3 separate regions of the Homo sapiens genome follow, and regions 1 and 3 are each linked to region 2. Evidence: fine-mapped expression QTL. A gene starts in region 2. Each other region holds a variant in brackets. All regions are shown on one strand. Distances are between the middles of the regions. Region 1 holds the start of CCN6 (cellular communication network factor 6). Region 2 holds the start of TUBE1 (tubulin epsilon 1). Region 3 holds the start of LOC107986633 (a long non-coding RNA gene).

The links. PIP is the estimated chance that this variant, and not a neighbour inherited with it, causes the effect. A credible set is the group of variants that fine-mapping cannot tell apart.
Region 1: its variant is the best candidate, but not a certain one, in a credible set for the expression of TUBE1 in adrenal gland (GTEx, PIP 0.69).
Region 3: its variant is the best candidate, but not a certain one, in a credible set for the expression of TUBE1 in lung (TOPMed, PIP 0.59).

Annotation. Positions count from the first base shown.
Region 1 is chr6:112,050,519-112,058,706 of GRCh38, forward strand. It overlaps CCN6 (cellular communication network factor 6), which reads left to right and starts at 3,586. Exons shown (of 5, transcript NM_198239.2): 1 at 3,586-3,887. The coding sequence starts at 3,840. The variant G/A (reference allele first, on the strand shown) is at 3,223.
Region 2 is chr6:112,083,168-112,091,355 of GRCh38, forward strand. It overlaps TUBE1 (tubulin epsilon 1), which reads right to left and starts at 4,315. Exons shown (of 12, transcript NM_016262.5): 1 at 4,243-4,315; 2 at 4,066-4,139; 3 at 3,389-3,441; 4 at 1,022-1,079. The coding sequence starts at 4,267. FAM229B (family with sequence similarity 229 member B) reads left to right here and starts at 4,424. Exons shown (of 4, transcript NM_001033564.3): 1 at 4,424-4,553. RefSeq lists enhancers at 3,845-3,894, 4,029-4,560, 4,295-4,484.
Region 3 is chr6:112,111,177-112,119,364 of GRCh38, forward strand. LAMA4 (laminin subunit alpha 4) reads right to left here. Exons shown (of 39, transcript NM_001105206.3): 34 at 7,980-8,135; 35 at 6,563-6,722; 36 at 4,687-4,817; 37 at 3,487-3,580; 38 at 2,900-3,019. LOC107986633 (a long non-coding RNA gene) reads left to right here and starts at 4,813. Exons shown (of 2, transcript XR_001744299.2): 1 at 4,813-5,251. RefSeq lists silencers at 2,117-2,317, 2,297-2,497. The variant A/T (reference allele first, on the strand shown) is at 3,533.

The DNA.
Region 1 (8,188 bases), 33 kb before region 2:
GGACATTTTGTGTGTTTATTTGTTCAGCGTCTTCTCTCCCAGTAGATTATTTAGCTGTAGAGGGCAGAGATTAAGTGTGTTTTATTGACCAAGTATAATCGCTTAGCTTTCACTTTTTAATCTGTTAAATGAGGTTGGTAATACTGCTTTTGCCCACCTCACTGAGCTGTGAAATTAAAAATGTAATACACAGGAAACTTCTTTGTAAATCATAGAACATGGTGCACATTGAATTATGCTTAGCGCCATGTCTATTGGAACGTACATCACAAACTGAACACTTGTGAAATGAGCTCCTAGACAGATTAGCATTCTGTTAAATGAGATAATAGGGAAACATGCTCAGAACAGGACACACACTGTGAAAGCTCTTATTGTGTAAGGTCAAAAATAGCAGCCCCGACCTCTAAAACTACCATATCCATGGAGTCCACACACAGTCGGCTGGAAAGAGTTAAATAGGAGCTCCCACAGCCAAAGATGTCTAAACACATGTGGGAGTGAGTAACCCAGCGCCAGTGTGTTCTGGAGCTGGGGGAGGTTTTGCAGGTCACTTTTCAAGCAAGATGTTCCTTTCCTACCAAGAGGCAAGGATGGTCAACATCTATCTTCCCCTGCTCCACGTCAGTGAGACTGCAGAGGGATGGAAGACGATTCCAGAAAAATGCCTGCTGCCGCCAGCATTTCACAGACAGCAAACGGGAGGAGGGTGAAACTCCTTAAATTCAAAAATTGCACTGATATGTGCATTACTATATGTGGAACCGGGGGAGAGCTGGAGCTGGAGAGATACAGTTGATGAATACCCCAGTGTTGGGATGCGACTCCTCTGCTTTTCATAGACAAACCAGAAACATGAAATTATCCATCCTGACAGCCGGTGTGGTGTGGGAATCACAGGCTGGTACCCACAGACCAATGGTGATAACCAGGAAGATAAAAAGACAAAGATCAGATTGGACACTGATGGGTCTTGACTCTTTATCCAATTTGCCAGTCTGTGTCTTTTAATTGAAGCATTTAGTCCATTTACATTTAAGGTTAATATTGTTAAGTGTGAAGGTTAATATTGTTATGTGTGAATTTGATCCACATTATGATGTTAGCTGGTTATTTTGCTTGTTAGTTGATGCAGTTTCTTCCTAGCATTGATGGTCTTTACAATTTGGCATGTTTTTGCAGTGGCTGGTACCAGTTGTTCCTCTCCACGTTTAGTGCTTCCTTCAGGAGCTCTTGTAGGGCAGGCCTGGTGGTGACAAAATCTCTCAGCATTTGCTTGTTTGTAAAGGATTTTATTTCTCCCTCACTTATGAAGCTTAGTTTGGCTGGATATGAAATTCTGGGTTGAAAATTCTTTTCTTTAAGAGCATTGAATATTGGCCACCACTCTCTTCTGGCTTATAGAGTTTCTGCCGAGAGATCCGCTGTTAGTCTGATGGGCTTCCCTTTGTGGGTAACCCGACCTTTCTCTCTGGCTGCCCTTAACATATTTTCCTTCATTTCAACTTTGGCGAATCTGACAATTATGTGTCTTGGAGTTGCTCTTCTCGAGGAGTATCTTTGTGGCGTTCTCTGTATTTCCTGAATTTGAATGTTGGCCTGCCTTGCTTGGTTGGGGAAGTTCTCCTGGATAATATTCTGAAGAGTGTTTTCCATCTTGGTTCCATTCTCCCCGTCACTTTCAGGTACACCAATCAGAGGTAGATTTGGTCTTTTCACATAGTCTCATATTTCTTGGAGGCTTTGTTCGTTTCTTTTTATTCTTTTTTCTCTAAACTTCTCTTCTCGCTTCATTTCATTCATTTGATCTTCCATCACTGATACCCTTTCTTCCAGTTGATCGAATCGGCTACTGAAGCTTGTGCATTCATCACGTAGTTCTCGTGCCATGGTTTTCAGCTCCATCAGGTCATTTAAGGACTTCTCTACAGTGAGAACACTGGGACACAGGAAGGGGAACATCACACACCGGGGCCTGTTGTGGGGTGGGGGGAGGGGGGAGGGATAGCATTAGGAGATATGCCTAATGCTAAAGGACGAGTTAATGGGTGCAGCACACCAACATGGCACATGTATACATATGTAACTAACCTGCACATTGTGCACATGTACCCTAGAACTTGAAGTATAATAATAAAAAAAAAAAAAGAAAAGAAAAAGATCAGATTGGACCAAAACAGACACATTTTCTTCACTACTCCATTATCTGGTTTTGTCCTATTTCTTAGGGAGGCAAGATAAGGCGTTGGCATCCTAACTGCAGTGGGTATTCCTTGTTGTTTGATGTGCATATACTTACAGTTTAATGACTCCTTAGTAAGCTCTGTGTGATCTGCAGGTTTTAGGGTGTCCATGGTTCTCCAAGGACACCAGATTCTCTGTGGTGGAGGACAGCCTCGTTTTTCCCAGGCCCTCAGCTCAGGCCTAAGCGAGGCTTGATGTTGTCTTTATACAGTAGTGACTGCCTTGAACAGTAACAAAGGTGAGCAATCGGTATAGGATAGGTAAGGCAGCAGGAAAAGGAGGGATAGGTAACTGATCAAAGGAAATAGAAATAGGCCTTGGGATGGGGGCAGGCAGGTGGGACGCCTCAGGGACCTGAGAGGGACAAAGCACCACGGCAGCTGCAAATGAAGATGGGAACACAGACCCAGGCTGAGAACATGGAGAAGCGAAGGTCCCACATGATGACACAGGAGGAGATGCGCTGGTGGTCACACCTTTCAGGGAGGTGAGTATGAAGAAGAGGAGTACAAACCTGTCAAAATTTTATTTTTAATCTTTTTTTTTTTTTTGAGAATAATTCTCACTCTTGTCCCCCAGGCTGGAGTGCAATGGTGCGATCTCGGCTCACTGCAACCTCCGCCTCCCAGGTTCAAGCGATTCTCCTGCCTCAGCCTCCCAAGCAGCTGGGATTACAGGCGCCTGCCACCACACCTGGCTAATTTTTGTGTCTTTTTTTTTTTTTAGCAGAGACGGGATTTCATCATATTGGCCAGGCTTATTTTTAATCTTAATTCATTAAATGAATGATTGCTACCAGTGTAATTGTTTTATTTTAGGCCCGGAAAAATGGAGGTTAACTTCATTGTCATCTGTCATGGAACTGTGGCCACAAAAAGAGGCGTCTCTCAGGCCAGGTACTGTAGGAGTCCGCCCCCTGCTCCATCTGTATTTTTTCCACTCACAGTCCACCTGGCATGAGAAAGGTGTTGGGATAAA[G/A]GTGAGCCCAGGGCACTGTGGGTGCCTCCGAGAGAATCTGAGCTGGGGGAGTCAGGGTCCTTCGAGAGCCTGCCATTAATATGGAGGGGGAAAGCCAGGGCTAGGCTGCGATGGGTGCTGTTGGTGGGGGGGCCAGGCCTGCACTCTGTACGTGAGGGTGAAGCTGGAGAAGGAAGCAGCCTAGAGAGGACCCGGAGCAGGGCAAACACAGATGGAGAAGCTGAGGGCAAGGAAGGGAATGACGTGGGACCCCACCCGTTGTCGGGGGCAGGCTCTGCTCTCCAGGAACAGGTAACACAGTCACTTAGAGAACAGTCACTACTTGCCCTGCCCTCCTGAGTCCCGGGAGGAAAGTGCTCGCCCATTCCTGACCTGTGACACGCTCACTGCGAAGGCAGGTTATTAGAAGAGTCCCATGAAAGTAAACAGGGTATTAAAACGGATCCTTAAAAATGAAAGTGCAGGCTGAAAGTTGGTAGTGTGGGAGGTAGAGGGTGTGTGTTCTTGTGCAGAGGAGCGTGGGGTTTGCAGAGGAGACAGGGGAGCTTTGTGTACCCGGAGCAATGAACAAGCGGCGACTTCTCTACCCCTCAGGGTGGCTCCACGGTCCCAGCGACATGCAGGGGCTCCTCTTCTCCACTCTTCTGCTTGCTGGCCTGGCACAGGTAAGTCCTCTCCCCCGACTCTTTCCCTTCCGGAGGCTATGGCCATCCTTAGTTCTTCAGGCCCAAAACTAAACAAAACGAAGATGGAGGAAGAGGGAGGATCAATGGCTTGTGGAACTACTTCATGAGAAATAGGAAGCCATTTTTCTTTCCAAATAAAGTTCTGTGTTCGTTCATGAGCTTCATGAAAGAAATGTAAAACATTTCTCCCTTTCAGGTAATGGCACCGAAGCCTCCTTTCGCTATGTTTGAACAGCGCCACGCTTTCCTATATATTTTTATAGCAGAGCCTAAGGCACAGCCTGGCACAGTGCGGGAAACAGTGTCTCTCCATGCCAGCTCCAGGCGGAGGCTCAACTTTCCATTGCTGTTTGCAAAATGTGCAAAGAGCCCCTGGAAAAACGAATTTTGACAGCGACTTTTTCCAGTTAAGTCTGTCCTTCTTTGAAAGGGGCACTTTGGAATAAACATTTACATTTTTAAAACATTCTCTTACTTTGTCTTTTCTCAGTCCATGTGTTTCTCACTTCCTGAAAGGGAAGCAGTCCATGGAGGCTTGGAAATATTTCAAGCAACAGACCAAAGGGAAGTTTAACTTACTATGAGCAATTCATTGCCTTAGTCTTTTTAAATAAGAAGATGAAAACAAGGTGACTTAATTGTTGATTTATTTACACGGTAGACAGGAGACAGAGCTTTTGAAATCTGGTGATTTAGGAAACATGGGTGTGTCTGTGAGTTAGTAGTTGATTGGGGCCATAAGTAGTAGATACATCTTAGAAAACAAGGAATTGCAAATTGTTATACCATATAGAGAGAGATTTACGATTTCAAAAGAATCATGACAAGAATGTCAGTGGTCCAGGTCATTGCTGCTGTTCTGTGGAGGGGCTCACTCCCCTGTCTGTGTGCCTCCTATTCCACTGTTCTTGAGAAAAAGCCTGTCATTGTGGATTGAGAGCAGCTAGATGTTCTTAGACAGCAGGTATTCCAACACAGAGAGATGTGTACAAAATAAACAACAACAAACACAGAAAGGTGTTACACAAAGAGCGGTAAAAATGGATTATTTTGTGCTTAACTTTGCTTTTATGAATTCATAAATTCATGAAATAGCTGATAATACCTAGCATTTACTGAATAGCTGCTATATGCCAAATACTGTGCTGGGTGCTTTATTTATTTATTTATTTATTTATTTAGAGACAGAGCCTTGCTCTGTCGTTCCAGGCTGGAGTGCAGTGGTGCAGTCTTGGGTCACTGCAACCTCCACCTCCTGGGTTCAAGCGATTGTTGTGCCTCAGCCTCCCAAGTAGCTGAGATTACAGGCCTACACCACCATGCCTTGCCAATTTTTGTATTTTAGTAGAGATAGGGTTTTGCCCTGTTGGCCAAGCTGGTCTTGAACTCCTGACCTCAAGTGATCCGCCCACCTCGGCCTCCCAAAGTGTTGGGATTACAGGTGTGAGCCACCACCTCCGGCCCAAGGGTGCTTTAGTTATTATCTTAATTATCAAAACAACTTTACAAGGTGGTCATTATTAATCCCATATTACAGAGGAGATCAAATGATGGGAAGTTCTGTAAGATCACAGAGCTGTTGCAAAGCTCGGATCTGTTGTCAAAATGCTTATTCTTTCTATTGCACCATTCTAGTGATGCTTATTGTCCTGAAATTTTGCTGTTGAAAACAATCAAAATATGCCTGAGGAAAAGTGAAAAATATAAGATTCTTTATATTTACCCACATATTGACTATGTCCAGGCCTCTTCATTTCTTCCTGTATTTCTAAGTTACTATCATAACAGAAGATCTTCAGACCGAAGATCCTCCTTTAGTATTTCTTGTGAGGCAGATCAGCTAGCAACAATTTCTCTTAGGTTTTGTTTACCCAGAAACGGTTTTTATTTCACCATCATGTTTGAAAGACAGTTTCACTGGCTATATAATTCTGGATTGACAGGATTTTTTTTTTTCTCCGTTTAACATTGTCTCTGGGCATCTTGTTCTTCTCCATCTCTCCCTCCTCCTCCTTCTTTTGATGAGAAGTCAGATCTCAGTTTTATTGTACTTCTGTATGTAATGCTTCCCCCTTTTCTCAGTCTACTGTTATGATTTTCTTTATTTTGAGATGGAATCACCCTCTGTTGCCTAGGCTGGAGTGCAGTGGCGTGTCTTGGCTCACTGCAACCTCTGCCTTCTGGGTTCAAGCGATTCTCCTGTCTCAGCCTCCTGAGTAGCTGGGACTACAGGTGCACGCCACCACACCTGGCTAAGTTTTTGTATTTTTAGTAGAGATGGGGTTTTGCCATGTTGGCCAGGCTAGTCTTGAACTCCCCGCCTCAAGTGATCCACCTGCCTCGGCATCCCAAAGTGCTGGGATTACAGGCTATTTCAGCTTCATTTTTGAAAGATGGTTTCACTGGCCATATAATTCTGGGTTGACAGGTTGTTTTTTTTTCCTTTCAACATTGTCTTTGCACATCTTCTTCTCAATCTCTTCCTCCTCCTCCGTCTTTTGATGAGAAGTCAGATCTCATTTTTCATGTAATTCAGTATGTAATGCTTTTCTCAGTCTACTGTTATGATTTTCTCTTTATCCTTGGATTTCAACAGTGTTACCTTTTGACCTCAGAGATTATCTGGAAATGCTTCAAAATTGGAAAGTTAAAGAGGCATCCGGGGGCAGTTTTGGGAGTGTGCATTTCATTAGAAAGAACACATGAAAAAGCAGGGAGGAGAAAACCAACCCAGGGAGTCCAGCAAATGGCAAGTCATGGAAGGAGAGTGTGTGAGAGCTAAAGCTCAAGAGGTAGGCAGGAGAGGGCTTTGGATAACTGGCTCAGAAGTTTAGGCTGCACAGTATGGACTATGGGGAACCCCTGATGGGCTTTAAGGAGAGGAGTAATACAACCAGACATGTTCTTTAAAGAGATTCCTCCAGGAGCAACATAGTAGATGCACTTGAAAAGTCATTCTGGAGGGAGGAAGGTCAGTCAGGAACTCGTAGTGACGGTGCTTACTTAGTAGCAATGAAATGGGGAAAAGCATCTAGTTCTGGGAAGACGAGGACAATACAATACATAGGAGAGGGTCACTGAATCGTCATAGGAGGTGAGAGGGAGGAAGACAACCCAGATGAATCCAGCTTCCTGACTCCAAACTTTGAAGAGTGAAAAATGATGACTTTTGGACTTGAGTATTTCCTGGAGGACATTTGGGTGGAGATGTCCAGTAGGTAGTTATCTCACGGGTCCAGGGCTCAGTGGAGAAGTCCAGGCTGGAAATTTAGTTTTGAAACTTGCATAGGATGAAAACTGAAGGCAAGGGTGTGGGTGAGATTGCCAAGACACAGTGTAGAATGAGGCAAGCAATACATTAAAGCTATGAAACACCAATAGGCCTAAATTTAAGTCAAATTCAGGGTAACAGGAGCCTGCGGAGGAGATTGAGAAAGTGCGTTGAAAAGTAAGGGGAGGACTGGGGGGACCAGATGTAATGAAATCCAAGGTAGAGGAGAGTTAAATGCCTTAGAGAGGTGGGGCAAGAGGAGGACTGAAGAGGGTTCACGGATGTGAGACCAGCAAAGAGGCCACTGAACCTGGCATCCTGAATCACTGGTGGCTATAGCTGAACCTGTGCAAAACTGAGATGGAGGCAAAATTTTTTTAAGTTTAAAATTTTTTTAGGATTCTAGCTTCACTATTTCTACTCCCTTCTCCATTTTGATGTTTCCTTTTCCCCTGCTCCTTCTCCAGAAGCCCAGCAGTGTCCTATCCTCCCCATCAAAACCCATTCTCACGTTGTGCATGTAACTTTTGAATCACAGCTGAAACGTTACTCTTTACTGAGGCATATGTGTTTTACCAGTAGTAAGAAAAAAGGCTGAGGGTTTAATATTGGGTGGAATTTCCTACAGATACTTCTAAATGTAGAATTTTTGAGCTGCAAATGGACTTAGATCTAGTAATCAATTCAACAGTCCCTGGTTCCATCAAATAAACATTAAGAGTTATTTACATAAGCAAATTGCCAGGCACTGTGCTAGGTGCTGGTGGTATACTCACAAACAAACCACAAGCACCTGAGGTTGGGTGGCTTTACGGCTAGTGGAAGAGATAGGCACTTACATGGGTAATTTCAGTTTAAAAATGTGTGCAAGGCAGGGAAGTTATAGGAACCTTTCTGGAAAAGATGATACTGAAACAGAACCTTGAAGTATCCTTTAACTAGATGAAGAAGGAGCTGGGTCTGGGCAGAATGTCCCAGGCAGGAGGAACAGCATCATATATGCAGGGAA
Region 2 (8,188 bases):
CAAGCACATGATCTCTGCCCTAAATTTTGTTTTCCAAGGACATCGGAGATTGCAGATACTAGATGATTCCCAGATGTCACAAAACTATTGCTCACCAGTCTTTAAGCTACTACACCAGGTCTGATCCTTGGCATCTCAATTCCTTCCATAACATTTTTTTTTTTTTTTTTTGAGACGGAGTCCCGCTGTCGCCCAGGTTGGATGCAGTGGCGCGATCTCGGCTCACTGCAGGCTCTGCCCCCCGGGGTTCACGCCATTTTCCTGCCTCAGCCTCCCGAGCAGCTAGGACTACAGGTGCCCGCCACCTCGCCCAGCTAATTTTTTGTATTTTTAGTAGAGACGGGGTTTCACCATGTTAGCCAGGATGGTCTTGATCTCCTGACCTTGTGATCTGCCCGCTTCGGCCTCCCAAAGTGCTGGGATTACAGGCGTGAGCCACCGCGCCCAGCACCTTCCATAACATTTAAACTTTCTTTTCTATTATAGTCAAAGATCACTGATCAAAAATCAGAAAAAGTAGTTCGTTACAGACAATCACAGAAATATTGTTGGAATGATTAAGACTGTAAATAAGACTGTAAATATGGGCTAAGAACCTGAAGTACTTGGTTCAGGAGAACTTATATGGTGAATGGTTTTTATTCACTACAATGTGGCTGGTTCCATGTTTTTTATTGGTAGTAACTTTGATGCAAATAAATCTTCCAGTATCTTTAAATAAAACATTAAACTGTACTAGTACGTATTTCAGGTCCTTAGAGTTAAGAATGCTCCTTTTGTTATCATTTATCTAGACACTATTTCTCCTGAAAACAGGCTAACTACAGTGTTTTAAAGTATGGGCTTTTCCCCCTAATGTGTTAGGTGGACACAAATGTCTGCTTAGTTATATTTATATTAAATGTGGCTTAGTAATTTTTTTCTACTTTGAAAAGTTTAAAGTTTTATTCTCATGATAGTTACTGAGAATAGTTATTTAAAAAATACATGTAATATAAGAATCCAAGCATATGTATCTTACTCGTGCTTTTAAAGAACATATTTTTCCCTTGGAAATACTTCCACCATCACCAACCACTCTGAAAGATAAAAAAATGAGAAATGGTCATAAGATCTTCCATGGCTAATAGCACTATCAGGTGATAAAGTTAACTTCCATTTATATAATAAGACTGCTTATAGGCCAGGTAAGGCAGACACAACAGCTATTCCTAATCTCTTTCTTCCTTGCTTACCTCCCATTAGGCTGAAAAAGTGAGGTACTTAGTTTCCTGGCTTTCTTTGTAGTTAGGGCTGGCCATGTAATCCAGTTCTAGCCAATGAGATAAAGGGGAAGTATTCTGGGAAGCTTTTAAAGAAGGACCAGATGCAGTTGGTGCCTATCTTCTTTCTTTTTCCTGCCTCAAACTTGAATATGGATGTGATTCCTGGAGAAGACTGCCATTTTATAGTCATGAAGTAATAATACAAGTACAAAAAGCCAACACACTTATGGACAGTGGAACATATATAGTATTAGATCTTTGAGGCATTCCTTTAAACCTAGAACATCTGATTTGCAGATTTGTGAGATAAATGAATACCTTTACTGCCTCAGCCACCATTAATGTAGTTTTCTATTGCAGTTAACACCCATCAACTGATATAACTGGTATTTACCATTGAGTATCTAAGGTTGTTCTCAGAATTTCACGTTGGAAATAAGTTGCCAAAGTACTAAAATCTAACGCAGTATATGGGTCAATAAAGACAGTTCACAAGACGGAATATATGAAGGGTAGCCAATCATCAGGCCAAATTCAACTAGCTGCCTGTTTTCCTAAATAAAATTTTATTCAAATGTGGACACACCCATTCCTTTATGTATTACCTATGCCCACAATCATGCTACAGATCAAGTAGTGGTGCAAAAGACTTTATGGTTCACAAAACCTAAAATATTTACTGCCTGGTCCTTTACAGAAAATATATGCATGCCAACCCATGCTGTAGGTAAATTCCTATCATGCTACTCAAAAGGTATAAAAATTTGATAAGAATAGTACACAAAGATATGGTTTTACTTTGAAAAATATTTTTTGTACTAAGCTGTGGAACAGATGCTGCATGTGTTGATAGTACACAGAAAGAAGTGCAAGATGCCACAACCCTGTTTGCCAAACTTACCGGGAAAATAATAGTGCTCTCAGGTTAAAGTATAAAACACACAGAGTAGATGAGAGTGTAGTTATGAAGAGTCACCTTATGAAGAAAGAAAAGCTCCCAGGCTGAGTCTCAACTATGTAATACTCAATGTAAGCGTTGGGTAACAAGAAGTAAAGAGGTGGGTGTAGGAACTTAGCAAGAGAAGCGCCGGAAAGGAAGTATGACAGAAGCAAATTTGAGTCTCCTAAGAGAATTTAGAGGTGAGGATATTGTGGGCTACAAATAAGAGGGAATCTATAGTCTATATGACAGATATCTCCATAAAATAAATATAAATGATACCAGCCATTAAAGTAACTAACTTCCTTTGGTCTGATTCCATGGTCACCAAGCAACCTTCAGATTATTACACAGCTTTTCAGTTAGATTTCCTACAAAAGATAAAGTAATGTGCCTATGAAAATGAGAATTTGGTCTTTGGTTAACCTGGCTGTACTGGAGAGCACTGAACCCATCTCGAGATGCCAATGACACTTCTGAGTTTGCAAGCCAGTGCCCTAGATAGACTCTGGAATTCACCCAGGAAGCGCGGACTAATCAGCTTTCTCTGAAGATAACTGCTCACACACCCAGCCAACTATTTTAAACTAGAACTGATGTTCCTATTGGATTAAAGCCTGACACGAAGTATGTATTTTTCAGTTTAAGCACAGGACAGTTAGTTTTATGAAGTATTTTGAAAATGCATGAACTTAATGATTTAATATTAAAAGCTTATGGAGATATCCTAAACGGCAACTTAAATTACTCTTCCAGATAAAACATATATGGTACTTACATATACTCTTTATTAAATAAACAAAAACAATCCAACAACTGCTTGTCACCTTTTTAAGTATATTTTTATACTTACAGCATATATGTAAACAATATATTTTTCTTTCAAAAGTTAGTTATTACAGGATGCATTAACAAGATGCCCTCTGGGAAAATTTCAGCTTTCTTTTAATGAAACTTATTTCAAGGTTAAGTTAAAAGAAGTCACACTAAAGGGAAATCTGTTGTCTTCTTCGGGAAAATGATATAAGAATATTAATAATCTAATAGAATAAATATGCTTTCAATAATGAAACAAAAAAACACAACTTCGCAGCTGGCTATTTTTATTGTCCTTTGAAGAATTCTCTCCCAAGCTACTGAAACTTAAAGTATCACACTGTGACAGACTTTAATCCCATCTTACCTGGTGTCCACATTTCTAAAGAAGCTGCTTATTGCCTCATCATAAATTCCTTTCTAAAAAGAAAAACATATGTTAATAGCATTTAGGTTTTGCTTCTCGCCCAAATCAAGTTCTTTCAATTTTAATTACATAATACTGTAATGGCTAGGATGAGACTCTGATAAGAAAAACCAAGTATCACAAAATGCGGAGCCTGACTCTTCCCAATCTCCTTAGAAGAGTAAATGCCAGATCTACAGATAAAAAGTTCAGCAGGGGGTGCTAAAGAAAGGATTTCACCCATAGGACTGTAGGACAGGTCCATCAAATGAGCGTTCTCTGGATTCTTCGTAATCTTTTTAAAAGCTGACTGGTTAAATTAAGGAATACAATAACCACACGTGTTATCTATTTTACAAAGTACTTTCCCATATACAAATCTCACTGTTCTGCACACGAACACCAATAAAGAGGAGACCCTGAGAATCAGGAAAAACGTTAAGACTAAGGTCGCTGGCCAGTGTTCTTTTAGTTTAGTGTGTGTCTGACGCAACATGTTTAAAAACCAGTACGTTCTTTACTGGGAAGATCCCATGCATCTTAAACGGGTCAGATGAAAGCTCAAGTCGATTATTTCCTGCGTATGGGCTGGAAGACCTAGCTGACAGGCGAGGGGGCTCGCGGCGGCGGGCGGGTACCTGGTTGACCGCGGCGTGCTCCCTTAGTGCCAGGTCCCAGAAGCAGCAGCCGATCTGGTTTCCGCACTGGCCGACTGCGACCGGAGGAGAGGAAGGAAAGAGAATAGGACATTAAGCAGGAAACATGGCCGCTGGATTCCGCGGCGACCAGGTCTCTACCCGCCCGGCGTAGCTTACCCTGTACGACCACCGACTGGGTCATGGTGGTGCGCCGCCGGCTCCGGGAGCTTGCTAGCCCGCGGCCGCTTCTGCATTCCCCCAGCAACGGCGCTCTGCTAGAGAGCTGCCGTAAGTCACGCTACTGCCGCAAGCCTCTGCCGTCGCTAAGCACGTCTGTAGGTTCAGGCTAAGGTTTTCCGTCAGAAGGCCGCGCAAGTGCACTTGCGTGTCACCGTTACCGTAGCGACTGGGCTTCTGGACTGTATATCCTAGCTGCCTTGTCAACATCTTCGAGCATCGGCAGCTCCGGAGGCCGGGGTAACTGGCAGGTAACTAGGCTTTGGAGTGGTATTTTAAAATATGTGTCGTTAAGCTGTTCGTGGGCTATCAGAGGTTTAATTTTTGTTCACAGCCTCAACACCCGGGGCGGTGGATCAGTCCGTTTATTCAGATTCCACGGGACGCTGCGTTGGCATCTCTGTTCAACAAGCCCTTTATTCTAATAGAAAATGAACAATGGCGTTGAGCAAAGAGAAACCCCAGAGAAATAGTCATGTCAGGGCACAATTGAAACTAGATGGTTATACGCTTTGACAAAAATGGCAAAGCTAAGGTCACAGACCCAACCAGTATTTGTTGAACGCTGTATACTCCCCAAATTAACTTGTAGGCTCGCTGGGAAGATTAGAAAGAAATTAAGGCATAGATCCAGTTCCAAGAAGCTTACAATCTAATTGAAGACATACACGCGAAATACTTAAAGAATTGTGTGGCGTTGACTATAAGTGCAATAGGATTCAGTGGTTGAGGATGTAGATGAGTATGTAGAAGTCTGATAGAAGACACGAGATTAACACTAGGCATTTAGATGGGTATTTAGATGGGATAGGCAGGAGAAGATTAAAAAGTTAGGCATTATGACAATTACCAACTACTTAAAATTGTCAAACATTAAAATATGTAAACTTCTATTGATCAAATTAGACCAGATTTTAATTAAGAACTCAAGTACTTCTTTAATGAAATTAATATTTTCCACAAAAATTCTGAAGAACTACGAAACTCTAAGAAGTCTTCTTTGTTTAATAAAAAGTTATATGGTATGTGCTATGAATATGTGCTAATATGAACTGTAATATTCAATGGATTAGAACACTTTATTGTCCCACCAAGACACGTAGTAGTTACTATTAAATTTCTCTGGTAGCCGGTAGGTTTAAAGTTGCAATGGATTTTATATCTTTTGGTAATAGGCAGCTTTCGGTCAGTAAATTTTTGTAGGCTGGATTTATTCTTAACTTCTTACTGAGTATGGGGTCAGTGGTAGAGGTAAAGTTGGGCATTTTAGGTCTTGATGCTAAAGTCCCAACGTCTGGGGCTTCCAAAATTTGCAAGTCTTGGTCCAGTTTGTAGGCAGTGATGTGAATAGGTCTGTATCAGTGTGTTATCAGTGCTAGGTGAGATGATACACTGGCCTTTGCAGAGCCCTACCCTTCATGCAGTCCCAGTCATTATTCCCCACACAGGAAAGAAAAGTCCTAACACATCTTATTAATAACTTCAGTCTCTAGAGAATCAGACTGAGAGACAGTTCTGCTTAAGAGCCAAGCAAGGTAGAGCCTCACATGCCAGCCACTCCAAAACTTCCGTATATGCAAACCCGGGTGAGCCAAGTTGAGATCGGTTGAACCGCAGCGGGCTATTCAGAATATTATAAGCAAGAGAAATGTTTTTGGTTGAAATTACTGAAATTTTGGGGTGCAGTTTTATTGTAGTGATAGCTGACCAACATACAGAGCAAATAGAGTGAACAGAATTCCACATGCTGAAAATGAAAAAGAAAAAAATTATTGGGAATCCTATGGACTCCTAAAATTGAAGGAAGGAAGACAAGGATGGAAGGGAGAGAGGGAGGGAAGGGGGAGAGGAAGGAAGGAACGATGTAAAAGATGGATAAAGTACAAGACCTTGGGGTAAAACCTAGCCTAAGAGGGGAGAAAAGAAAATTCATCATATCTACTTTGTGCTGAAGAAGAACTTAAGAATATGAATGCAATAAAACAGGAACTTAAAGACAAGATACTAAAATAATAAGACTCAAGCTCTATGAGGGCTGAGTCTTGTTGTTTTATCCACTACTAGGGATAGTACCTTGCATATAGTAGATAGTAAATAAATATTTGATGAATAAATGAAATAAAATGGAGATAAAAGAACTAAGGAAATTAACTGAAGACAACAACATCCACCTTAAAGGACTTAAAGAAATAATTTTTAAAAGCATTTAAGAAGCAGACTAGAGAGATGCACATCAAATTATAATGTAGAGGAAAGTCTTAAAATAATAACAATACTAGGCAAAACCCAGAGATATGAAAGTTATTAAAAATAATATGTATGAAGGAGACAAAGATGGCTCAACATAAGATTAACATGTGCCCACAGCAAATGGAGGAAAAAATGTACTTGATAAAAAAAAAGGAAGAAAAATACATAGATTAAAAGGATACACACTATGTTCTATAGGACAATTTATAGAAAAATCAACACCAAGACATGCAGCCTCATTAAGGCATTCAACTTTTCAGAATAAAGAGAGAATTTTTTAGGTACCTAGGCATGAAATGAACGGGGGAGTGGGATGAAGAAAAAACAATTAATTAGAGTACTTTAGACTCATCTATATAGCACATTCAGTACTGGAAGGCATTGAAAACATGCTGCAAAGTTCTGAAGGGGAATAAAATGTTTTAGAAGAAAATTATTCTGTAGCTTTTGTAAGTTGTCATTAAAATATAATTCAGAGTTGTGGGTGGTCTGTTTTTATTCTTGCTTGCACACCGCCATTTCTGAGCTCATCTCTTTCTCATATAACTTGACAAACAGTAGCAACTGACATGTTATTGTTTTCCAGCCTCTTCTCCCAACATTTAAATTCATTAGTTAAATCACATGCCTTCTAGGTTATCACAGAGTTTTCCAAAGATTTTTCCCAATAGGTTTGTTCCTGGGTGACATAGATCACTATCCTTTTAGCTTTCCACAACAGTTTCCTTGTTAATTGCTGCTTGACCACTTAGGTATGGTGACTTATATTTTAGATTTTTGTTATAGCGGTACCTAAGTCTGGACCAAAGTCTGTATACATCAGCATAAACTTTGTTGTGCTGTGGTAACAATCAACCCCAAAATCTCAGTGGTGTAAAACAACAATTTTTTTTTTGTACATGATACATGTCCATTGAGGGGTGTCTGGGGGCTATGCTTTATGTTATCCCCCTTCTGGCACTCAGGCTGATGATCTGCCATTATTTGGTCCATTTTTGATTTGTTTGATTTTAAATTGATTAATTATTGTGTATATTAATGGGGTACAGTTGATTTTTTGATAAATATTTACATTGTGGAATGATTAAATCAATCTGATTAACATATCCATCATTTCACATACTCAGAATTTTTTTGTGATGAGAACATTTAAAATCTGCTCTTTTAGCAGTTCTGAAATATATATTATTAATAACTAGTCACCATGCTATGTAATAGATCTATAAAACTTATTCCTCCTAACTGAAACTTATTGTATCCGTTGGACATCTTTCTGATCTCTATCCCTGTCCCACCCTCCAGCTTTGCTACCCTCTGGTAACCACCATTCTACTCTCTACTTTTATGAGCTTGACTTTTTTAGATTCCACATCTAAGTGGAGTGTTTCTCTTTCTGTGGCTGGCTAATATCACTTAGCATAATGTCCTCCAGGTTTATCCATGTTGTCACAAATGACGGCATTTTCTTCTTTTTTAAGGCTGAATAGTATTCCATTGTGTATATATACCACATTTTCTTTATCTGTTTCTTTATTTGTTAGAGAGTATGCAAAAACAAAGCTCTGAAAATCTTTAAGGAGTTCCTCATGAGCCTAAACTGAGTGCTGATCCTTGCATGGATTCATGGAAACTATGT
Region 3 (8,188 bases), 28 kb after region 2:
GGGATTACAGGCACTCACCACCACACTCAGCTATTTTTTGTATCTTTAATAGAGATGGGGTTTTGCCATGTTGGCCAGGCTGGTTTCCACCTCCTGAGCTCAAGTGATCCACCCACCTTGGCCTCCCAAAGTGCTAGGATTACAGGCGCGAGCCACCATGTCCGGCAGAAAAAAAATTCTTTGATTTTTAATTTTGATTTTAAAACTATCACACACTAAAGTTGACTTTTTTGGTGTGTAGTTCTAGGAATTTTATGCGTTAGCTTTTTATGGATAGAAATAATGAGTCACCAGAGTTCTGAGTGGTATTCTTGGAGAATTCAGTGCATTTAGGGGTTTTATTTAGCCTAATTTCTTTAGCTATCCTCTTAATGCCTGGTTTCTGATGTGATTTTAGTGGAATTAATCTTGAACAGCTCAAAATGATATAATTAATTACATTTCATCTTAAAGTATAGTTGCTTTTATTCTAGGCTTGCTGGCATAATTCTTAGATGGACTTAAAAGCTGCAGTGGTGCAGTGGGCTGGTGGTTACGCCCTTCTGGCCTGCTAGCTCCTGTGCTGGCTCATTAACTAAAGTTTGCTATTCATTCTGTGTTTCAGGCAGGCTGAATTTGGCTTTAGGTACATCTTGCCTGTCCAGTCTGTAGGGCTTAGCAACTCTTGTAGTGAGGGATGATGGCAGTGTGTGAGGCTGGGATCAGACTGTGAAAGCAAACAAACAAACAAAAACCAAAGAGAAATATCTGTTTGAAAGATGTAGTAAGTACGTTGGGTGGCATAGTGAAGGACAAATACTCCAACTTCCATGAGGGAGGGCCATGCTTGTTTTGTCCACCTCCCAAAGCCTAGCACAATGCTTAATAGACAATCCATGCTGTGTGTTGGATATAGTCATGTTCCCTGCCATCAAGGAATGCACTTCTTAGTTTCAACAATATTCTGTGCTAAGTGCTACAACAGCAGTATGTGTATACATCCTAGGGGGAAAGGGGCGTGTTGTAAGTAAAAGTCTGAGCTGAGTCCTAAAGGTCAATAGGAGTTAGAATGGGGAGGAATAGGAGAAGTTGTTTCTTAACAAAGGTACTAGGGGAGGAAAGGAAGAACATTTCCCAGAAATTGAGGCCCAGTTCCCTTATGGAAAGGCCCGGAGCAAAGATACCATCGTTGAACATTTAGGAACTGCAAGTCCCAGAAGGTGTGGGGAGATCCCGAAGGCAGGGACAAGGAGGAGACAGATGATCAGGGAGCTTGCATGCTATGGTGAATTTAATCCTGGAGGCTCTTGGGAACCTGTGAAACATTTTAAACTGTGTTGTGATTTCTGGAGGGAAGCAATGTGCAGAAATATGCACTCATGTGAGACTTTTTCATGCTGCACCTGCATGAAGTGCAGTGCTGGCCTTTGCCAGAATCCTTTCAAAGCTGAAGTCAGGAACAGGGAGAGGACTGGGGAATGGAGAGGGGAGTGGAAGCAGGAGACAAAGGAGAAGAGTTGCTTTGCGAGGGTCTCAAATATTTTTTTTCACACCGGGTTACTATTATTGTCAATACTAGTATTTGAAAAATTCAGACAAAGAAGAGTGCTTAGTTGTTACTATTTTTGGAGTACCCAAGGTCAGATGCTTAATTTTATCTGTGCTTCTTGCTCTCTTCTTTAAAGCATTGTCTGTCTTTATGGGTCAGTTTAAAAATAATCTATTAGAAGATTATTAAAATCTCCACCAAGCCAAGCACAGAAAGACAAATATCATGTGTCCTCACTCACATACATGAGCTTAAGAAGTAAATCTCATGGAGAGAGGTAGAGAGTAGTTGGTAGTTACTAGAGGCTGGGAAGGGAAGGGGGAAGAAGGAGATGAAAATAACTTGGTTAATGGATACAAAAATACAGTTAGATAGAAGGAATAATTTCTAGAATTTCATAGTACAATAGGGAAATTATAGTTAAGGATAATTTATTGTGCATTTCAAAATAGCTAGAAGAGAAGAATTGTAATGTTACCAACACAAAGAAAAGATAAATGTTTTAGGTGGTGGATATTGCAATTATCCTGATTTGATCATTACACATTGTATACAGGTATCAAAATATCACATGTACCCCCAAAATATGTACAACTATGATATGTCAATTAAAAACTCCCCACCAAGTTCCAGCTGCAAAAGCTGGGTTATTTCCCTTTTAAATCCCACTCCCCAGCCATAGCATTCAGGTTTTCCAAGTTAGTGAAATGTGTAAAAACAAATGCATTCAATATGAGGACATGGTCCTTGCTTCACAGGTTTAAAACAATTGGGGTGTTTGTGTGTTGTCCATAAGTGTCCTGTCACCATCCGGGATTATACACCATTCTTGGCAGATGACAGCAGCAGTGACTGATGATGTTTACAGAATTGCAGCTGGGAACCTCTCTGAGGGAATGTCACTACCAATGGACAACAACTTATGGTCTGCAGCTGTTTTTGCAGTTCAGACTAATCATGGACCGAACTGTGCATTTTTTCCTACTGAGGAAGGGGAGCAACTAACAGCAAACTTAATCCTCCAAAGTTCTCAGATCCTACTGTAGTGTTAGTCAATGAGTTTTCTTTGTGTTAGAGATAAAATAAGAGTATGTGTGTCACTGTGTGTATGTGTGTGGCGGGCACTTAAAAGGGAAAGGAAAGAAAAAAATAAGCAAATATGGCAAGGGAGAGTAATAGCCACTGGCTGGAATGCTGGGGTCTAGTTCTTACATGTCACTTTATTATGCCTTTTCCATTTAAACAACACTGTATATAAAATCCTTTGAGTAACTAGGTGCATCATAAAAACACATGGCTCAATTCTACAATAACAATTGTGAGAACTCAGTTTTTTGGATTGGGAACTTTTCCTTTTTAAACAACACTTACCTGGAACACCTCCAACAAACACAGGCTCCCTGTGATCAATTGGTTTTGGATTCAGGGGTCCAACCACATGGTTCACTTCAGAGTCCACATCCAACTGAACCACATTAGAATCTCTAATAACTGAAATGCAGGGCAAAGACTGGTCATAAGTGGCACTGGAGTGATGAATTTTTAACCTGAGAAAGACTATTTATCACAGCAATTGCTTTTATTTATTCCAGAATAAAACCCACACTTTCTTCTATATTATTAAAATCATCAATGATGTCTAACAATGTCTAACCAAGAGATTACTGTAACATTTTCCTTAGAAAGGGAGAATATTTAGAATATTCTTGTGCTACTTTTTTTTGCCCTATAAGTTATGCATTATTGAAGCAACCCCTTAACACAATTTTGCAGCGTTCATATTTTGAAATCACATGTGGATTCAGTATACACATAATAGTATAATAACATGATTTTCTTTTCTTGGATACTTTTAGACTGTCATGCATTACCTATCATATAAGTGATAGCCTAAGTTCTGCCAGATCATAATCTTACAGTTGGGTGTGCAGGCTCCCCAGGGCAGTCAGTTTTCTCACCTGTAATTCTGTGCCATCTGCCATCACAGAGACTCTGCTTGGGTGT[A/T]ACTGAGGTGGAAAAATCTCTGATGCCATTATTGACTTTCACTATGACCTGCAAAAGATAGGACACATTGTATGATTTAGTTTGTCCTCATTGTGATAAAACTGAATTTCTTAAATAATTTACCACAGTGAAGCAATACTTCAACAAATATTCACACATGATTAGCTTTGCAATTTGAACACAAGGGTCTTTGGCAGCCTATAGAAATAGGTTCAACTGGGGGTGCTCTTTGGGGAGAGAACAAAGTGACTTCATAGGGGAGAAAATTGCGAGAGAGGGACAATAAGAAATAGAATAAATCCCTTTAATTTCTAAAGATTGAGTGTGTTATACAAAGCAGGTTGAAGTATTGGTGAAGAACATGGACTTTGAAGCTAGACAGCCAGTCTCCTATTTAACTTACTCTCTGCCCCAGTTTTCTCGTTTGTAAATTATAAGCGATACTGTTACCTACATCATGGAGATAATTGGGAGGATTAAATGAGTTAATCTAGGTAAAGCTTAGAATAGTACCCAACAAATAGTAAACACCAAGTAGGGATACATTTTATTGTGATGGCTCAATATAATTTAATAGAATGTACTAGAACCCAAATAAAAATCTGTTATGTTAAGTTAGCAGCATCAATGAAAATATACTTTTTTCTTAATATTTATTTGAATACTTCCATGAATATTCTTTAGTAGTATCTTAGGATGAAAGTGGCATTACAACATAATTTTTTATTTCTATCAATTGAGAATAATATGTATAGTATATATACATATCTAGTACACATACATATATCTGATATACATACATATTATAGATATTTAGAAAGATGTTTTAGTGTTTGTTGATTTTGATAGTTATGTTTGCTGATTCCATTTGGTGAAAAAAAGTTCTTCTCATTCTTCTCTTAAAACTGTGTTGTTATTAGTGATTTTTTTGATAGTTTTGCCATATTTTTATGACTCTTTGTTTTAACCAAATCAACTTTCAACATAGGAAGCTGAATCCAAATATTGCCCACATTTACATTTCATGTTATAGCTTTCCTATATTTCTTTTCAGTTAGGAAAGATTGATGAAATAATTCTGTGAAATAAATCTGCTTCAGATCTAGAATCCAAGGTCAGATGAGACAAATTGTTAAACATTTTTCAGACACTACCTGTCCATTTTTCATGTGAACATTTAGGTACTCCCCATTGACACTGTGGCCGTGGACCAGGGTTCCGGAACTGCTTCTGGGACGGACTTCAAATGCAATTTCAAACTTCAATCCAATATTGAAAGATTCATCTGTGGAGAGAAACACTATAAACTCCCAAGAACAGCAAGATCATATTTGTAACTATGGTGTGATTTTGTAATTATATATATTTTTATCTGTTTTTGAAAGTTTGATGCATTTTTTAACAGATAAGTAGAAAGTGGCTTTTCCATGTCAAACTCACTGTGGAAAGCTCTGTGGGGAACCAAGATAACTAATGCATCAATCCTGTTGTGGGGTGTGAGGCTGGCAACAGCACACAAAATATGTGTTATGGGAGCTCAGGGGAGGAGAAATTAATTCCAAGTAGCAGCAGCACTACTGAGTATTTCACAAGTGAGGAGGACAGGGCAATCTGGGCAGAGGAAGTAGACTCAACACAGGTACAGAGGCTGGAATGCTTGGAGAGCACTGTGAAGGCCACTGTGGCTGGACTGTCCCTGCCAGGGGAGAAGGAGGCATGGTGAGTGGGAGCCACACTGGGAAGGGCTCTAGTGGTGAAGTATGGAAGTTAGGCTTTATTTTACAGTCACTGAGCAAGACAGCTGTCTTGATCGGACCTGTATTTTAAAATAATTATTAAACAGAAACCTAACTGGTGCCAGTGTTGTACAGCATTTCAGAGGAGAAAGAGCAGAGAAAGTATTTAGGAGCTGTTACTGAGGTGATCCAATAAAATTCTTATTAAGAATAGTTGTGTTTACTCCAAGAGACTCATTGCAAACCAGGGCATCTAAATAATGTTCATTTAATGTATCCTATAAATCATTTAAAATTTTTTCCTGTTATTAGTTAGTGCTCATGGAGTAGTATATAAATTGTGCAGTTTGCTCTGTATTCCCAGCTGTCCAAACTGTTAAGAGTTCTTATCACTGAAATTCCATGAAAGGCTGAGAATTGTAAGTGTAGGTGTTTTAGTGTAGGGGTAAAGATGGGTGAGGCAGGAAAGTAAAATCATGAGCTAAGCAGAGAGGAAATACTACCTCTGGGTGTTCTGCTGGATATGGTGGTGGTTTAAAAAGTAAACTTGGCTGCAGTGTAATTTCTTTATTCAGGGGATGTGCAAAGTACCTAAGTGCCTTGAGAGGAGGGAACATGCAGCTTTATACCCTTTCCTATCCTAATTCCGGGCACTTATTCTGGTGTCTTCCTCACACCCAGCGATTGCTCCATAGAATATTCTTGGAATGAATTAGATGATGATTGTGTGTAGTCTGCTAGGATTTTATTTATTTTTAGAACTGTTATGTCCCATCATCTGGCATAGGGACTGCCTTATGGGAGGCATACAATAAAAACTGAATGAGTGAGGGAGTAATGGTCAAGGAGAATAATAAAAAGCCAGAAATAAAAATTTCTGAAGGATAACGTTGTCTGCTGGTGTTGCAAGTCATGGGGAGAAAGTGGGACTTCCTTTAGTAGGACAATGGTTCATGCCAAGAAGGAGCAGAGCAAGACCTTGAGGAGCAAGGTGGCCAAAAACTGACATGGATCAGGCCACGGAGCAGCATAGACATTCTAAAGGAGCCCAGGTGGTCTTCATCCAGAAGTTTGGCAGCTGTGGAGAAGCCTGGTCAGGGAGAGTATACAGGGATGGGGACTGCATGTATGGTTTGGAGTGCAGGAGGGAGAAAGGTGGTTCTTGTGGGAAGAGGTCATCTTCTAGGGCTGAGTTTGGCATTCTTAAGTTTTAACTCTGGGCCTGATATTCCCTGTTAGCCATCTCCAGGAAGAAGCATTTCATGACTCATATTTTTAACATGACTAATGTTACCTAGAACCACGTATCCTCCTTCTGTTGAAAAGTAAGTTCCTGTTTCCATGGGGCCTTCAAAGCAAGGGGTCACACTGAATGTCTGAGAAGCAGAGGTGATGGAGGCCCCATTGAGCTGGAGATTGCTGAGACAGCCACTAAAACTGTAGATGGAGTTAATCTGAGGGAAGAAGATATTTCTTAAAATCAATTTTCTCAACACAAATGCACCAAGGGGAAGCAAAATGAGGGGGTTTGAGTCCTGAAGGAACCCACGTAATTCCTTGTTTCATTTATTTCAGATATCTGAATGATCAGTACTTTCCTGGATAGTTGCTTTCTAACTGGTTGTTTGAAGCTGGAATTTTGTATTTGATAATGTCAACCTGTAGTAATTAAGCTATGGACATTTTTATGTTACACTTTGACACAATAAGTTGCAGCTGTGGTTTTCAAACTGCATATTTAGAAGTATCCTAGTTTTCCCTCAAGAATGACAGCTGTGCCAAGATCACCTAAGGCTGATGAGGGCTAGCAAAGTTCTTTACTTAAATCTACCATAGCCAAATAAACAGCAGAAAGCTTTCATTTCTGGTTTCATGAGCTGTTTTTGTGGTTGAGAATTTATCATATCACAGGACATGAAACTTGGGCCACTTAAGATAACTGATTTTGTCCTGCATTTGGACATTTTAAAAAAGAGATTGCCATGGAATTGGGGCTGCTTATCTAAAATCTAATTATAATGTAAACCATCTTTTTTGCTTCATCTACATATATTAATAGGTCTTAGAAATTATTTTTAACATTGCTAAAATCCAACCTATATTTATGTTAAGAAAAATTTAGTCCTTTGATGCATTCCTTTTATTGCTAAATTTTTTATAAGTGCAATATTTTTAATTTTTAAATTACACAAATAATATTTTTCTACTATATTCTCACTTCTCCCCAGGGCAACCACATTTCCTTATACATTTACAAATTGTGTGTGTGTGTGTGTATGTGTGTGTGTGTGTGTGTGTGTGTAAGAAAAATGGGATTGTAGTTTGCATAATGACCTGAAACTTTTTTTTTCACTCAATAATGTATAATGCAATGATTTGCTTTCTTTTTTGTTATGTCTTTACATTAAAAGTATGGGTACTTCCTGAACAAATAAGATCTCCTTGAGACATAAATTTTCATGATAATTTATGCCTCTGAAACTTTTTCATTTGACATCTACCTTAGAATTGAAAGATTACTTCTGACTTTGTAATGCCACAGGGCAGACAGGCAGCCCATAAGACAGTACTTACTTTGATATCCCATTTCCAGAAAACTACAGTTTTACTGGTGCTAGTTTCTAGTTTCCTAATCTGTGAGACGAGGGCCTCAATTAGATGATCTTCTGGCTCTAATGGTCAATGGCTCTACCTGGTCATGCCTGGCTTACCTGAACATTTTTCACAGCCTTTCCAGGAGCCACACCTCCCAAATAAATGGGACCCTTGATTTTCCAGGTAGCTTCAGTAGGAGGAAGACTTTCTTCTAGGACTCGGAGACCATCAATTACCAGTCGGCCACTGCTCCTTTCTCGAATAAATATCACCTGGATGAAGAGAAGGACAATAGCACATCTCAGGTACATTCCAAGATTGCAGA